Linked DNA regions of Homo sapiens: all the other regions are reported to be linked to region 2. Evidence: microRNA targets listed by miRTarBase, many of them from high-throughput screens and not tested one by one. Region 2 holds a microRNA gene; each other region holds the end of a gene's coding sequence.

Evidence for each region. Region 2 holds the annotated microRNA hsa-miR-515-5p (UUCUCCAAAAGAAAGCACUUUCUG, at 1,476-1,499, shown strand). A microRNA usually pairs through its seed, bases 2 to 8, with sites in the 3' UTR of a target mRNA and lowers its output. Matches are read on the target gene's strand: a 7mer-m8 pairs with bases 2 to 8, a 7mer-A1 pairs with bases 2 to 7 and ends in A, and an 8mer does both.
Region 1: the mRNA of RAB19 is a reported target of hsa-miR-515-5p. Seed matches in the 3' UTR shown: 7mer-A1 at 2,499-2,505.
Region 3: the mRNA of TANGO2 is a reported target of hsa-miR-515-5p. Seed matches in the 3' UTR shown: 7mer-m8 at 319-325.

Annotation. Positions count from the first base shown.
Region 1 is chr7:140,425,887-140,428,886 of GRCh38, reverse strand. RAB19 (RAB19, member RAS oncogene family) reads right to left here. Exons shown (of 4, transcript NM_001008749.3): 4 at 913-3,000. The coding sequence ends at 2,737. Among named protein-coding and RNA genes, the nearest start is that of RAB19, 23 kb to the right of the region's middle.
Region 2 is chr19:53,677,541-53,680,888 of GRCh38, forward strand. It overlaps MIR515-1 (microRNA 515-1), which reads left to right and starts at 1,463; the gene lies at 1,463-1,545. MIR519E (microRNA 519e) reads left to right here and starts at 2,400; the gene lies at 2,400-2,483. The region is part of intron 2 of LOC107985342 (a long non-coding RNA gene); the gene reads left to right. RefSeq lists an enhancer at 155-655.
Region 3 is chr22:20,064,357-20,067,356 of GRCh38, reverse strand. TANGO2 (transport and golgi organization 2 homolog) reads right to left here. Exons shown (of 9, transcript NM_152906.7): 9 at 193-2,815. The coding sequence ends at 2,695. Among named protein-coding and RNA genes, the nearest start is that of DGCR8, 14 kb to the left of the region's middle. RefSeq lists an enhancer at 749-1,249.

The DNA of each region.
Region 1 (3,000 bases), not on the chromosome of region 2:
TGGTGGCATGCGCCTGTAGTCCCAGCTACTCAGGAGGCTGAGGCAGGAGAATCGCTTGAACCTGGGAGGTGGAGGTTGCAGTGAGCTGAGATGACACCACTGCACTCTAACTTGGGCAACAGAGTGAGACGCTGCCTCAAAAAAAAAAAAAAAAAATGTGGCGCAGGGAAAGGGGGAACTGAGAGCTACTGCTGGATGAGAGGATGCCAGGAAGTCCAAGGGTGTTAAGAGGAGCAGCAGGCCAGGTGCAGTGGCTCAAGCCTGTAATTCCAGCACTTTGGGAGGCTGAGGCAGGTGGATCACCTGAGGTCAGGAGTTCAAGACCAGCCTGACCAACATGGTGAAACCCTGTCTCTACTAAAAATACAAAAATTATCCAGGTGTGGTGGTATACCCCCGTAATCCCAGCTACTCGGGAGGCTGAGGCAGGAGAATCACTTGAACCTGGGAGGTGGAGGTTGCAGTGAGCCAAGATCACACCATTGCACTCCAGCCTGGGTGACAGAGCGAGACTCCGTCTCAAAAAAAAAGAGGAGCAGCAGAATGCGGCTGGTACCTCTTTTCCCCTCCACTGGCATCACAAACCAAAGGGACCATTTGCTTTCCCCAGACCTCACACAACTTCTGGCCATGAGAAGCAGCTCAGTAAATGTCAGCTGCAATCATAAGTGGTGTTTGTCCTCCGGAAGCCCCAGGTGAGTGTCCACAGTTCCCTGGGACCCTGGAGGGGCTCCGTGGCCTGCTCCTGCTGCCTGCCCTGATGTCCCCTAACACAGTCCTGGAAACGAGGGGTGCCTGGTGACTTCCAGCCTCCTCTTACGTGTTTAGTTCTGAAAGCCGCAGTTACTCCATCCCAGAAGGCACCAGCTGCTCTCTGGCCATATCTTACAGAAGGGGCAGTACAACACTGGCTTGATATTCATCTATGAACCAATTTAATTTTAATTTAAAAATGACTTCTGATCTGGCAGATGATTTGGGTTCTAGAAAGAAATTGTGCCAGGCATGGTGGCTCATGCCTGTAATCCCAGCACTTTGGGAGGCTGAGGTGGGAGAAACCTGTGAGCTCAGGAATTGGAGACCAGCCTGGGCAACGTAGCAAGACTTCATTTCTACAATAATAATAATAAAAAAAGGCCAGGTGCGGTGGTTCACACCTGTAATCCCAGCACTTTGGGAGGCCACGAGACAGGTGGATCATGAGGTCAGGAGTTCGAGACCAGCCTGGCCAACGTGGTGAAACCCTGCCTCTACTAAAAACACAAAAATTAGCTAGGCGTGGTGGCGGGAGGCTGTAATCCCAGCTACTAGGGAGGTTGAGGCAGGAGAATCACTTGAATCTGGAAGGCAGAAGTTGCAGTGAGCCGAGGTCACACCATTGCACTCCAGCCTGGGCAACAAGAGCGAAACTCTGTCTCAAAAAAAAAAAAAAAAGGGCCGGGCATGGTGGCTCATGCCTGTAATCCCAGCACTTTAGGAGGCCGAGACGGGTGGATCATGAGGTCAGGAGTTCAAGACCAGCCTGACCAACGTAGTGAAACCCAGTCTCTACTAAATATACAAAAAAAATGAGCTGGGCGTGGTAGTGAGTGCCAGTAGTCCCAGCTACTTGGGAGGCTGAGGCAGGAGAATTGCTTGAACCCAGGAGGTGGAGGTTGAGGTTGCAGTGAGCCGAGATCATGCCACTGCATTCCAGCCTGAGTGACAGAGTGAGACTCAGTCTCAAAAAAAAAAAAAAAAAAAAAGAACAGGCATGGTGGCTCATGCCTGTAATCCCAGCACTTTGGGAAGCCAAGGTGGGCAGATCACCTGAGCTCAGGAGTTCAAGATCAGCCTGAGCAACATGGTGAAACCTTGTCTCTACAAAAAATACAAAAATTAGCCAGGAGTGGTGGCGTGTGTCTGTAGTCCCAGCCACTTGGGAGACTGAGGTGGGAGAACCTCTTGAACCCAGGAGGTAGAGGTTGCAGTGAGCCAAGATCCCACCACTATACTCCAGCTTGGGTGACAGAGTATGACCCTGTCTCAAAAAAAAAAAAAAAAAAAAGAAAGAAAAAAAATTGCAGGTGTCTTCCCCTATCCCAAGAGGGTGGCCAAGTCAGCCCTGCTAGAATAGAGTGAATTCCAGTTCCATCTCTATCAGACAGTTCCTGACCATTTGGCAAGATGGTACTTCTGGTATTTCTGCTAAAAGGCTTCGCTCCCCAAAGTGAAGACCTGAGGTGTGAATGTCAGGAACAAAATGATAGCAGCATTCTGGTTTCTCATTGCAGGCTTTCGTTCCATTCTCCCTGCCTGAGCTGTTTCAAACTGTTCCAGAATGTTCCAAACAGCCTCTTCTCTCTCTTGCTGTTTTGCCTTCCTCCTTTCCTTCACTACCCTCTTCTTCAAGCAAGAAACAAAATTCAGTAGAAAGCAGCAGAAGCTCTAGGGAGACAGAAAAGTGAAAGGGGAGAAGAGTACACTTCGTCCTCCCTCTCCTAGCCTGAAGTCCTGCCTTCTCCAGGAGTCAAGAGTCAGTGAAAACAATGGTGCTGGTTTTCCTGAGAGTCAGCAGCTATGACCTGTGGTGTGAGTCAAGGGAGAAGTGTGGCCCATCCAGACTGGGAGGATTAGGGGTGAGCGGCAAGTCCACGCTGGGGTCTAAAGCGCCACTGGGGCAACACTACGGTATCCTGGCTACCTTTGGTTTCAGAGGCGGCCTCTTTGGTGGGTGCAACTGGCTTTGCAAACATCTTAGCAAGTGCAGTGGGTCTTTTCACTTGGACCCTGGGCCATAAGAACGGGGCTGGAGTCCAGGGGGAGGCCGTTCAGGGCACTCTCCCCATATAGGTGCAGGCTGTTGCGCGCGATCAGCTCCTTGGCCATGAGCACGAAGACTTCTTCTATGTTCTTTGACTCCTTGGCAGATGTCTCCAAAACGGCCAGGAGGCCGTACTTCTCAGCCAGTGTGCAGGCATCCTCGAACAGGACGTGCCGCTTTTCCCAGAGGTCACATTT
Region 2 (3,348 bases):
CTGGGACTTCAGGTGAATATTAACCCATGCATAGGCAAGGAGAGAGGAAGGCTCTGACAGTCTGTGATCTCCCCTCACTGCAACCTCCACCCTCTGGACTGGGAACGTCAGGGCACTGCACCGATGCAGGCAGGATGAGCCGAGGGGAAAGGAGAGCCAGGCATCACTGGCTGGGGACATTTTGGGTTTGATCTGGATGGAGCAGGTGTCTCCTGGAGAGAGAGCCCCTGGGATTTTCACTCTGCTCCCTGGCTGTCTTAGTCATGGAATCTGACAACAGAGACTCCTGCCCAGGGCCACTTCATTTGGTTTCTGGACCCCAGTGGTCCTTCCTGCCTGGACTTAGGATCTTTTGGGGAAGTTTGGGATCTGGCAGGGCATCTGCATAATCCATAGAAATCCCTGAGAGTCACTTCCCTTGGCTGACATCTCCATGTTCCTACCCATTACCTTCCAAAGGAGACCCTTAACTGAATTACCAAAGGGGGCTTCCCAGAGCAGGGAAACCCGGTTAACTTTCTATTTCAGGTCAACAGTATACTTGAGATGTACTTGAACTAGAAATGATTGGTTGTTTAGGTGTGGGCATTTGTTTTTCCTAACTTAGTCTCCAAGAAAAAAAATTATTGAGGTTTTACAGCCTAGCCTGTGGTCTATCCTGAAGAATGTTCGTGTGTGTGACAATGTACATTCTTTTTTTCCCCCCAGCTCTGTCAAATCTTACTGAGGAGCTTTTACGGCCTAGCCTGTGGTCTGTCCTGGAGGGTATTTGTGTGTACAACAATGTATATTCTTAAACATTATCTTAGATTCCATTTTGGATGTTCCCATCAGGACTGTGTGTTTCTGTGCTGGAACTCAAGTGAACACTGGCTCAACATCCTTAGAAATCCAGCCCAATTCTCTTGGTTAAAGATAAGGTATGTGTGGTAGGCATTGCTTTTTCTCTTTGGGGACAAAACTCAGGAGGATTGCCCCTTGATGAACAAGGCTAACCTGCTAAGCCTTTGAAGCAAGGAACTGGAGATGGTCCTTTCAGGGGTTTATGTTCTGGATTCCATAAAACATGCAAACAGGGGCAATGAATGCACCTTTTTTATTTTTATTTTTATTTTTTTTTGAGATGGAGTCTTACTCTTGCCAGTCTGGAGTGCAGTGGCACGATCTCGGCTCACTGCAACTTCTGCCTCCTGGTTCAAGTAATTCCCCTGCCTCAGCCTCCCGAGTAGCTGGGACTACAGGTACATGCCACCACAGGCGGCAAATGGTTGTATTTTTAGTAGAGACGGAGTTTCACCATGTTGGCCAGGATGGTCGTGGTCTCTTGACCAGCCTCCCAAAGTGTTGGGATTCCAGGCGTGAGCCACCGCGCCTGGCCAATGAATGCATCTTTATTTTTGTGTTCATTTTAATCTGGTAAGGTAAATTCCAACAAAAAACCCAGAGTTTTGGAGTGAGAAGATCTCATGCAGTCATTCTCCAAAAGAAAGCACTTTCTGTTGTCTGAAAGCAGAGTGCCTTCTTTTGGAGCGTTACTGTTTGAGAAAAACCACGTTGAAGTTGATGCTGATCTTGGTAACACATTTGCAGAGCGTGCTTATCATCAGACTTGCATGATGTTGGGGTTCTGTTTTTGTTTAGTTTTTTTGCAACACAGGGTCTCTTGCCCAGGCTGGAGTGCGGTGACACTTCCAACCTAGACCTCTTGGGCTCAGTTGGTCCCTGCCCCCACCCCCTCCCCCTTTTTTTTCTCTTGAGACAGTCTCTCTCTGTGGCCCAGGCTGGAGTGCAGTGGTATGTTCTCTGCTCACTGCAACCTCTGCCTCCCGAGTAGCTGGTATTACAGGCACATGCCACCACGCCTGGCTAATTTTTGTATTTTTAGCAGAGACGGAGTTTCATCATGATGGCCAGATTAGTCTTGAACTCCTGACCTTAGGTGATCCACCTGCCTCGGCCTCGCAAAGTGCTGGGATTACAGGCATGAGCCACTGTGCCTGGCCCACAACGTATATTCTTAAATATCATCTTAGATTCCATTTTGGTTGCTCCCATCGGGACTGTGTGTCCCTGTGCTGGAACTCAAGTGAACACATGGCTCAAAATCCATTGCTGTTCTCTAGAAATCCAGCCCAATTCTCTTGGTTAAATATAAGGTATGTGTGGTAGGCTTTGCTTTTTCTCTTTGGAGACAATACTCAGGAGGGTTGCCCCTTCGTGAACAAGGCTAACCTGCTGAGCCTTTGAAGCAAGGAACTGGAGATGGTCCTTTTAGGGGTTTATGTTCTGGATTCCAGAAAACATGCAAACAGGGACAATGAATGCATCTTTATTTTTGTGTCCATTTTAACCTGGTAAGGAAAATTCCAACAAAAACCCAGAGTTTTGGAGCGAGAAGATCTCATGCAGTCATTCTCCAAAAGGGAGCACTTTCTGTTTGAAAGAAAACAAAGTGCCTCCTTTTAGAGTGTTACTGTTTGAGAAAAACCACGTTGAAGTTGATGCTGATCTTGGTAACGCATTTGCAGAGCGTGCTTATCATCAGACTTGCATGATGTTGGGGTTCTGTTTTTGTTTAGTTTTTTTGCAACACAGGGTTTCTGTTGCCCGGGCAGGAGTGCGGTGGCGCTTCCAACCTAGACCTCTTAGGCTAGTTGGTCCCCCCTACTTTTTTTGTTGTTTTTGTTCTTGAGACAGAGTCTCACTATGTGGGCCAGGCGGGCAGGCAGTGACACATTCTCTGCTCACTGCAACCTCGGCCTCCCAAGTAGCTGGTATTATAGGCACGTGCCACCACGCCTGGCTAATTTTTGTATTTTTAGCAGAGATGGAGTTTCACCACATTGGCCAGGTTAGTCTTGAACTCCTGACCTCAGGTGATCTGCCCGCCTCTGCTTTCCAAAGTGGTGGGATTACAGGCATGAGCCACCCTGCTCGGACTGCAGGGTGTTTTTTTTTTTTTTTTTAATTATTATTTGTATTTTTTTGTGCTGCCAAAGCAAGCACTTGTGTGTAGGAATTTTGTTTGTTTGTTTGTTTGTTTGTTTGAGATGGAGTCTCATTCTTGTCGCCCAGGCTGGAGTGCAGTGGCATGATCTCGGCTCACTGCAACCTACGCCTTCCGGGTTCAAGCGATTCTCCTGCCTCAGCCTCCTGAGTAGCTGGGATTTCAGGTGCATGCCGCCACCCCGGCTAATTTTTGTCCTTTTGGTAGAATCGGGGTTTTGCCATGTTGGTCCGGCTGGTCTCAAACTCCTGACCTCAACTAATCCACCTGCCTCGGCCTCCCAAACTGCTGGGATTACAGGCATGAGCCACCGCACCCGGTGAGGAGTTATTTTTAATGTG
Region 3 (3,000 bases), not on the chromosome of region 2:
ACCTCTGCCTCCTGGGTTCAAGCGATTCTCCCACCTCAGCCTCGCACTACAGGTGTGAGTCACAATGGCCAGCTAATTTTTGTATTTTTTTTTTTTTTTTTTGGTAGACACAGCGTTTCGACATGTTGCCCCAGGCTGGTCTTGAACTCCTGAGCTCAAGCAGTCCTCCTGCCTCAGCCTCCCAAGGTGCTGGGATTATAGGCATGAGCCACTGTATCCAGCCTAAATGTTCCTCTTTTTATAAGGATAGCCGTCATATTGGATTAGGGCCCACACTAACGACCTCATTCTACCTTGGTTACCCCTGGAAGAACCCTATCTCCAAATGCAGTCACATTCTGAGGTACTGTGGGTCAGGACACTGATATATCTCTTTGGGGACACAACTCATAACACCAATAGAATCACCATTGAGGGCTGTTCTTCCTTAGGGGCCTCAGGCTGCTGGGGAGCCCTGGGCAGGGTGGGGGCAGAGGGACCCACACAAGAGCAGAGACTGCTCTTCCTGGGCAGGCCGGGTCTCTGGGCAGAGGTGAACATCCGGGGGGCTCTTCATGAGGGCAGGGCACCATCCAGGTTGGGGACTGGCACTGGTCACCGGCACAGGACATGGTAGCCACTGGGGCAGGTGAATGTGTTGGCAGCAAGGGCAGTGCCCCCAGCCGGGAGCCTGTTGTCCTGACTCAGAGGACACGTATGGGATGTGGGGCCTCAGTTTCTCCTCAGGCCTGGGGGTGCAGCCTGGGTCGCAGCTGGGAAACTCTTCTGAGTTCAAAGTGAGCCATGGAAGGCTCTGAGCCCAGCAAAGTGGTCTGGGCAAGAAGGGGAAGAGACGGGGAGGCCCCTGCTCCTCCCTAGGTGGACTCACATCATGTCACAATCAGGCTGGGAAGCCCTGGCGCAGGTCCACACCCACCCTGCACTCTCATGGGTCTGAAAAGGCCAAGTTAGGGGTTGGGTGCAGAGGCTTAGAAAAGTCTAGGTCTCAGCATTGGATATCCGGGACCCCCTTATACTCGGCCAGGCTCAGGGATGAAGCTCCTTAGAGCTGGCCCCAAACCAGGAGCTCCTGGGGCTGAGACAGATGCAGACCTGCTCTCCTGCCCCTCCTACCATCCCCTGGCCCCCATCATCCAACAGAAGTCCAGGCCAGCCTGCCTCCCGCTCCAGTGGGGCCTCCATTGCGACCTGATAGACCTGTATGGGTGGCTGGCCCCATAATCAGCATCTACCACATCCCACGCGCATGGGGTCTCTCACAGCGGCCCCTGCCCATGGACAGATGGACTGACCCACAGGCATCCACATGTGGTGCTGAAGAAGCCGTGAGGAAAGGGGGAGGTGGGAAGGGCCTCGTCCAGGGTGTCTGGCTGCACAGGAGACATAGCAGCTCCCACTGGCACCCTGCATACAAGGGAAAGGCCTCGAAATGCGCTCACCAAAGCCTCAGAGTTTTATTATCAGGAGCTCACATTCAGGTACAGATTCCTATGAAGTTTGCCTCACCTGGAGGGAAGAGGGAGAGAGCAGGGCTGGCTGAGATGGGGCTGCCAGAGGCATGGTCTCCAGCTGGGTAAGCGGGATTCTGAGAGCCCCTGGTGCACACGGAGCCTCCTGGCACACACAGGATTGTCTCAAACACAGAGGACCTCTGGCACACTCAAGGGCACTGAATCTAGCAATGAGTCTGCACTTCTGTTATGAGAGTGGGTTTTTCGGCCAGGCGTGGTGGCTCACGCCTGTAATCCCAGCACTTTGGGAGGCCGAGGCAGGTGGATCACCACGTCAGGAGTTCAAGACCAGCCTGACCAACATGGTGAAACCCCGTCTCTACTAAAAACACAAAAATTAGCTGGGCATGGTGGCACACGCCTGTAATCCCAGCTAATCAGGAGGCTGGGGCAGGAGAATTGCTTGAACTTGGGAGGCGGAGGTTGCAGTGAGCCGAGATCGTGCCACTGCACTCCAGCCTGGGTGACAGAGCAAGACTCCGTCTCAAAAAAAAAAAAAAGAGAGAGTGGGTTTTTCTCAGGTCTTCTCGGTGCCCAATTCCAAATGTGGCTGTCTCCTCTGCAGGAGCAGGTCTGCTTGTCAAGAGTCCAAGCACGCCTGTGTTCTGTGGCCACAGGAGAGGAGGGGCCGCTTTTAAATACAAGCCTACTCCTGTCGTTGGACCAGAACAAAGACCTACTGGCCAGAAGCACATGAGAGGTGAGAGTCGCCCTTCTGCCTTGTTCGGCATCGTGTGTGTGCACCTGTGTGTGTGTGTCTGTGCAACTGTGCATGTGTGCACATGTGTAGCACACCTGTGCACGTACATGTGCCTGTGTCGGTGTCCATGTATATGGCTTGCATGTGTGTGCTTGTGCACACGCAGGAGTGTATGTGTGTGCCATGTGAGTGCCTGTGTACATGTGCAAGAGTGGGCTCAGGTGTATCCACATGTTCATGGTATACCTCGGCCGGTCCTAGACCTAGTATCAGACTCTGCTGCTCCTCACTGGCATAAAGGCAGACCCTGAACTGGGCATGGGGACACAGATGGGTAACACGCAAACCACAGGGCCCTGATCCGGGGGATGCTGGCCAAGCCACGGGCAGTGCAATGCAGTATGGCAAAGGAAGGTTTCCTGTCCACAGTGCCCCTCAAGGCAGGGCCCCCCAGGAGCCCACTGGCCAGGCCCAGAGGTGGGGTTAGCTCTGCAGTGTGAACTCATAGGTTCTGGTCTCCCAGTGGGAGAGGTCCTTGTCCATCATGCTACGCTCAGTGAAGGTCACGTGGCCGTCCGCATCTACCAGGATGATAGTGTTGGTTCTGAAAGAGAGCAGGGGCCCTCGTTCACCTGGTGTCCCTCAGCCCTGCCCTGCCTGTCACAGCCACAAATAGGGCAAGAATGCAGGCAGGTAGAGTTAGGAACCCCATGCCTGGAGGCTGTGCCAAGTCACAGAGAGCAGCAGCCTCAGTCTTGGGGATGATGAGGGGCCATCAGTGGCGTGTGA